2 linked regions of the Homo sapiens genome follow. The protein of the gene in region 1 purifies or fractionates together with the protein of each later gene. This does not show direct contact. Each region holds a gene or a part of one and is shown on either strand. Other genes may lie near its edges.

The links. The genes of interacting proteins can lie anywhere in the genome.
Region 2: the proteins of SLC22A23 (region 1) and UBAC2 purify together in Homo sapiens (affinity purification with mass spectrometry; one large-scale study listed by BioGRID and IntAct). This does not show direct contact.

The regions. Positions count from the first base shown.
Region 1 is NC_000006.12:3,450,551-3,454,050, forward strand, and holds part of SLC22A23 (solute carrier family 22 member 23), read right to left. Parts: intron 1-3,500.
Region 2 is NC_000013.11:99,242,354-99,245,853, reverse strand, and holds part of UBAC2 (ubiquitin-associated domain-containing protein 2 isoform 1 precursor), read right to left. Parts: intron 2,023-3,500; coding exon 1,903-2,022; intron 1,340-1,902; coding exon 1,230-1,339; intron 1-1,229. UniProt on the Homo sapiens protein: Restricts trafficking of FAF2 from the endoplasmic reticulum to lipid droplets.

The DNA of each region.
Region 1 (3,500 bases):
CGCCTCGGCCTCCCAAAGTGCTGGCATTACAGGCGTGAGCCACTGTGCCCGGCCGTCAGTTCGGTATTAGGAAAAGAATTTAAGAACTTTTAATAAATCAGCAAAAATATCATGCATTTAAAATGTTTCGGAAGAAATGGACAAATTCTTTTGATGAGGTGTCAAGAAAATAGTAGATTCCATTAAATAAACACTTTGATTAGAACTGTGAAAACAGGTTTGTGTGTAAGGCATTTCAAAAGTGAAAACTAGTCATCATATGATAACTAGGATCATGGAATTGTGGGCTATTTTTAAAAGTGTTACTGTTGCAATGATATAATTATTTCTAGTCTTAATTAAATTGTACTTAAAGTCACTTTAAATAACTTCTACTCTTTAGCCCTAGAAAAAGGATACAAATTACTTCCCAGGATATTTAAGCAACTTTCAGGATAAAGGTCAGAAATCTTTGCAAATTCATGAGAACAGAGGAAATGCTACCAGAAGATTGGAGCTGGACAAACATCCTACATTTCAAATACAGAAAAAATTGGGGCAAGTTCAGCTGGCATTGATTATTGGCAAAAGTTCTAGAGATTACTCAAGAAAGTGCTGAGTATTAGAAACCAACAGATTCAGTCAGAACAATGCAGGATACACTGTGCAAATTATTATTATTTTTTGAGACAGGGTCTCACTCTGTCGCCCGGACTGGAGTGCAGTGGCGCGATCTCGCTCACTGCAACCTCTCACTCCCAGGCTTGAGGGACTCTCCTGCCTCAGCCTCCCTAGTAGCTGGGATTAGAGGCGTGCGCCACCACGCCCAGCTAATTTTTCTATTTTTAGTAGAGATGAGGGCTCACCATGTTGGCCAGGCTGGTCTCAAACTCCTAATCTCAAATGATCCATCCACCTAGGCCTCCCAAAGTGCTGGGATTACAGGCGTGAGCCACTGCACCCAGCCTGTGCAAATCATTAAGCGCAATATTTGCAAGTCCATGGAGTCTTTGTTTTTTTGTTTTGTTTTGTTTTGTTTTAACTTTGTTGACTAAGATCTCAGAAGTATCTGAGAACTTGGGCTGCGCAGGGAATGCTGGTGTGGGAGAAGCAAGCCAACTGAGCTGAGCTGCGGCCCTGTTTGTCCTTAGCTCTCCAAAACTTGCTGTCTATGTCACTTGGAAGGAATTTGATTCTTTTCTGCAAGGCACTGACAATACCTTACAACAGAGCTGGGAGATAAAATGCAGAGCTTGTGAAAGTCATCAGAAAGTTGAACACAGATGGTCCCCGGCTTAAAACGGTTCAACTTGATGATTTTTTGACTTGATGATGGTGTGAACACGATACACATTCAGTAGAAACTGTATCGATAAGGGCTGCTTTATTCACCAGAAGTGAAAAACACGATGGTTGTGTGAGTATCTGAAGTACACAACCATTCTCTTTTTCACTTTCAGTACAGTATTCCGTAAGTCACACGAGATATTCAACACATTATAAAACAGACTTTGTGTGAGATGATTCTGCCCAACTGTGGGCTAATGTGAGTGTTCTCAGCACATCTGAGGTAGGCTGGGCTAAGCCAGCATATTCAGTAGGTTAGGTGTATTAAATGTATTTTCCACTTTCAATATTTCCAACTGATGAGGGGTTTATCTGGACACAAGACACAACACCATCCGAAGCAGAGGAGCATCTGTACCTGGTTCTTGTACAGAACACATGGCACACTCAACTGTGTGTTCACTGACTTAAAATCCATGATTGGCACCTGCTATTAGTCTGGCTGGTGGCTCACACCTATAATCCTAACACTTTGGGAGGCCGAGGCAGAAGGACAGCTTGAGGCCAGGAGTTCAACACCAGCCTGGGCAATATAGCAAGACCCCCCTCTCTACAAAAAAATAAAAATAAAAATGAGCCAGGTGTGGTGGTGCATGCCTGTAGTCCCAGCTACTCAGGAGGCTGAGGCAGAAAGATCACTTAAGCCTGGGAGGTGGAGGCTTCAGAGAGCTGTGATATCGTACCACTGGACTCCAGCCTGGGCAACAGAGCCAGACGCTGTCTAAAAAAAAAAAAAAAAAAAAAAAAAAAAAAAAAAAAAAAGCCTAGAGACTGACCTTGGGTTATTATTCTTAATCAAAGAAAATAATGTATATGAAATGTTTTATAAACTATAAAGGGCTGCACAAAAGAAACTGACATTAATGTTGTCATTATTTTGAAGGCATTGCAGATTCTGCGATGCAAATTCTGGTACCAATAACAAATACAAAGGCCAAGGCAAAAAATAAAAAGATCCTAACGGGAGAGATCTAGAAACTCAAAATTGTTAAGATGAAACCTAAGTCATGGTCATGCTACATGAGCCTAAAACTGAGAAAATCCTGATTTCATCCACCACTCCCAGGAAAACAACATTGGAGGGGTTGGTGATCATGGTCTGGAAGCAGAAGTATGTCATGTCTAGTTTAAGCCTAATGAATCAACTCTAGGTTGCAGTAGGGGAAGGACAGTATCCATCAATCCCCTCTTTGGGTTAGAACACACAGGGCCTGGCTGGGTTGGATTCTGGGTACCATGCTTAAGAGACACACATGCCAACCAGAGCGATAAGTATGGCAAATTTTTGCACGTATGGAATAGCTTAAGTACTGTAGATTTTTCAGCCAGGAAAGAAGCTATTGAAAACACATTTTATTTAAGAAATAATTTTTTAAAAAAAATTATTCTGAGGAGCAAGTGGCACAAATAGGCATGAGTTAACCTGAGTTTTATTTACCAAAGTGTGCCTTCCTGCAAGGAAAAGCAACTACGGGATGGACTAGCTGCCTTGTTAACAAAGCACTCCCTTTCCATCGATGGAAGTGTTCAAACTAGGATGGATAACTTCATGTTAGAGATATCATGCAGAAGGCGAGAGAGGCTGGTCAGCCCTAAGATCCCTTTTAACTACAATAACCTGGGATTCTAACTGGCTTGACAGTTTCACGTGTGTAGGTAGGTGCTAGGATACCAGCAGCCACATGAGAAAGAGGTCCAGAACTGTGCCTGGTAGCTCTTCTGTCTTCCTCTCCCTTTCTGACACCTAGGGACAGAATGGTGCATATATTGTAGGGCACACACACGCTAAAGGATACATACTAAATACAGGATACATGCTGAAGACAGCATGAGGCTTATTTGCAAGAGAAAGATCATGGAACAGAGCAGGAAAGAGGCACAAAAGGCAGCTTCTCAAACCCTGAGCTTTTATCCACTGAAAGAAGGCAAAGGCTCCTTCCACTTTCTGCTTCTACTTGGGATGTGGGCTGACAAGCACCTGACCCCTGGAACTCCTGCACTCACCATAGTGTACATCCCACATTAGTGCATCTGATACAGTATTCAACATACACAGCAGCACAGGAAAAGTCTGCCTTCCAACATGCCAAAATGTGCTTGAAAAGCTCTTTGAAGCATTTGTTATGTGCTTGAAACACACAGAACACTGGGAAGGCAGTCCTTTATTTAGATCT
Region 2 (3,500 bases), on another chromosome or scaffold:
GGTATTTTGTTTGTTTTTTGAGGCGGAGTCTCACTCTGTCACCCAGGCTGAAGTGCAGTGGAGCGATCTCCGCTCACTGCAACCTCTGCCTCCCGGGTTCAAGTGATTCTTCTGCCTCAGCCTCCTGAGCAGCTGGGACTACGTGCCACCACGCCCAACTAATTTTTGTATTTCTAGTAGAGATGGGGTTTCACCATATTGACCAGGCTGGTCTTGAACTCCTGACCTCGTGATCCGCCCACCTCGGCCTCCCAAAGGTGGCATGAGCCACCGCGCCCGGCCTGTTTTTTTGTTTGTTTGTTTGAGATGGAGTCTCGTTCTGTCAACTCTACTCCTAGATTCTAGTTATTTCACACACTAATACATGGTTTTTGTTTTTTTTAAAGAAGATCAACGCAATATGAAAGCATACAAATTCTGAGTGGGGTTGGCCACGGCAGGTTGTCTACAAAGTTATAACCTATACACCGGCTTTGTTTTATGTTTGATGGAAGTGTTTAAACATTATCAGCTTTTAAAAAATTATTCTTCAGAAGCTTAACTTCGTACAAATTAATTTTGTTTCCTAATCTAATTAAACTATATTTTTGTGTTTAGTTCATAAAATTACAAAGACAAATTTCACTATAAAAACACACAAAACTAATTCTATCAGGATCAGAATAGGAAATTCACTTAAAATTCTCTAAAACACAAACTTTCAAAGCTAAAAAAAGAAGGTGCCTGGGCAAGGTGGCTCACACAGTGGCTCAAGCACTTTGGGAGGCCGAGGCGGGTGGATCACCTGAGGTCAGGAGTTCAAGACCAGCCTGGCCAACATGGTGAAACCCTGTCTCTACTAAAAAATACAAAAATTAGCCAGGCATGGTGGCACGTGCCTGTAGTCCCAGCTACTTGGGAGGCTGAGGCAGGAGAATCGCTTGAACCCGGGAGGCGGAGGTTGTAGTGAGCCGAGATCGTGCCAATGCACTCCAGCCTGGGTGACAGAGCGAGACTCCGTCTCAAAAAAAAAAAAAGTAAAATAAATTTTAAAGAAAGAATATAAAATTGATTCTATTTCAAGAACATAATAAAAATGTAGGCATAGATTAGACTTTTTACATATAAAATCAATTTAACTATATCTAGAAGTTTAAAATATTATTTTACTGACTTTCACATAATAATAATAACACTTTAAATCAGATTCAAGTAGTTCTAAATTAAGTCAATCTTTAAGTGCTACTTACAATCCAGAAGGCAAATTACTAGCTGCAGTGATGCCAAAGAAATACTGCATAGCTTCAATGAGGAGAAAGTCAAATAAGGCTGACAAAACCCAGGAACCCAGCAAAAAGGACTACAAAATAAAACAGCAGAAAAATGATAGAGATGAGTCTCCTAAAAATAAACTAACATTTATTCAGCTAGAATCAGCTCAGAGGTGTGTATTCATATGTATGTGTGTGTGTGTATATACACACATGCATATGTGTGTATATATATTTGAAATTATTTGTTTTTATTAAAATAGACTTTAGAAAATGGGCGGGGTAAACCCATATTGCTCAAATGTATTAACAGCCATAATTTTTAAGTATGTTGAAGATATATTTTTAACAAGTAAAACACAAACCACTAAGCAAAATAAATTATAATTTTATTAAAGTCAAAGTATTAAAATTTGTATTAGTGTTCACAACTAATACTACATATTATCATTATCACTATTATTATTATGCTAATGTCTTACATTTTAAAATTTTCTTTGGTTAATGTCCATGTGCCTCAAATCAGATACAGAATAGTGTAATTAAAAAGATAACTGTAAATAACAACACCAAGTTTAACAAAATAAAATCCATTTAAACAAAATTTTTTTCTACAGCCTAAGTAGCAAAGACAAAATACATAAAAACTTACTGCAAATTTTCTGCTTCCATATCTTCTTTCAAATATCCTAAAATTATAAATAAGCAGACTACTGCAGAAAGTATCTTTCAAATCAAGGCAAATTATTCTTCCACATATCAACCTCCAAATCTAGATGGGGATTTAAAAAAGAACAATAAACAAGAGTAAAATTTGTTCGGGTCTCTTCCTTAGCAAATTTGTTATGTTTACACTGCCTATTTTTAATGTCCTAAACAAAATCATAATGCACACACCAAAGGAAAACTATATATGTATGTTCTCTGAGCTCAAGTCTCTCATAGTAAAAATTCCTCCCAACAGTGGCACGAAAGGTACTTGAATTTTTTTGTGCTTATAAGAAAACATATTCTCATTAAGATAACAGAAAACTGCCTATAAGAAATTTCAGGATCACGTTTAGTAAGATTTTTTAAAATTATATACGTAAACTAGAATGAAAGGCTAACAAATGTTCATTTTTATGTTATTGAATAAGACAAAGTTGTAACTGAAAAACAACTTAGGTATAAACTCAAAAATATGCATTTCTGAGCTTAATTTTAATCATCAACTTACTTCATAGCAACTATGCAAAGTAATTTATGGCAACTGCTGCTAAATATGACTAGGTTTGAAATATTAGTTTATTTAAATCATTGTTTCACCCAACTTCTGGCTGCATAAAAAACATATAAGGGGACATACAAAAAAAAAAAAAAAAAAAAAAGAGCTACTCAAAGGCCTATTTTTGAGTCTGCTTAAACATTTTTCAGATTTTTAAAGATAATCCCAATGACATCTCAAACATCCTAATCTTATTTCCCCTTCACAATGACCTTATGAGATAGGTAAAACAAATATTAATTCCAACTTTTCTTTGTATTTTTATTGTGGTAAAACAGATATAAAAGTTAAAATTTTGCTGGCTGCCCAGTCTGGAAAGTGAGGAGCGTCTCTGCCCGGCCGCCATCCCATCTAGGAAGTGAGGAGCGCCTCTTCCCGGCCGCCATCCCATCTAGGAAGTGAGGAGCGTCTCTACCCGGCCGCCCATCGTCTGAGATGTGGGGAGCACCTCTGCCCCGCCGCCCCGTCTGGGAGGTGAGGAGCGTCTCTGCCCGGCCGCCCCGTCTGAGAAGTGAGGAGCCCCTCCGCCCGGCAGCCACCCCGTCTGGGAAGTGAGGAGCGTCTCCGCCCGGCAGCCACCCCGTCCGGGAGAGAGGTGGGGGTCAGCCCCGGCCAGGCCAGCCGCCCCGTCGGGGAGGGAGGTGGGGGGGGTCAGCCCCCCGCCCGGCCAGCCGCCCCGTCCGGGAGGGAGGTGGGGGGGTCAGCCCCCCGCCTGGCCAGCCACCCCGTCTGGGAGGTGAGGGGCGCCTCTGCCCGGCCGCCCCTACTGGGAAGTGAGGAGCCCCTCTGCCCGGACAGCCGCCCCGTCCGGGAGGGAGGTGGGGGGGGCAGCCCCCCGCCCGGCCAGCCGCCCCGTCGGGGAGGGAGGTGGGGGGGTCAGCCCCCCGCCCGGCCAGCCGCCCCGTCTGGGAGGTGAGGGGCGCCTCTGCCCGGCCGCCCCTACTGGGAAGTGAGGAGCCCCTCTGCCCGGACAGCCGCCCCGT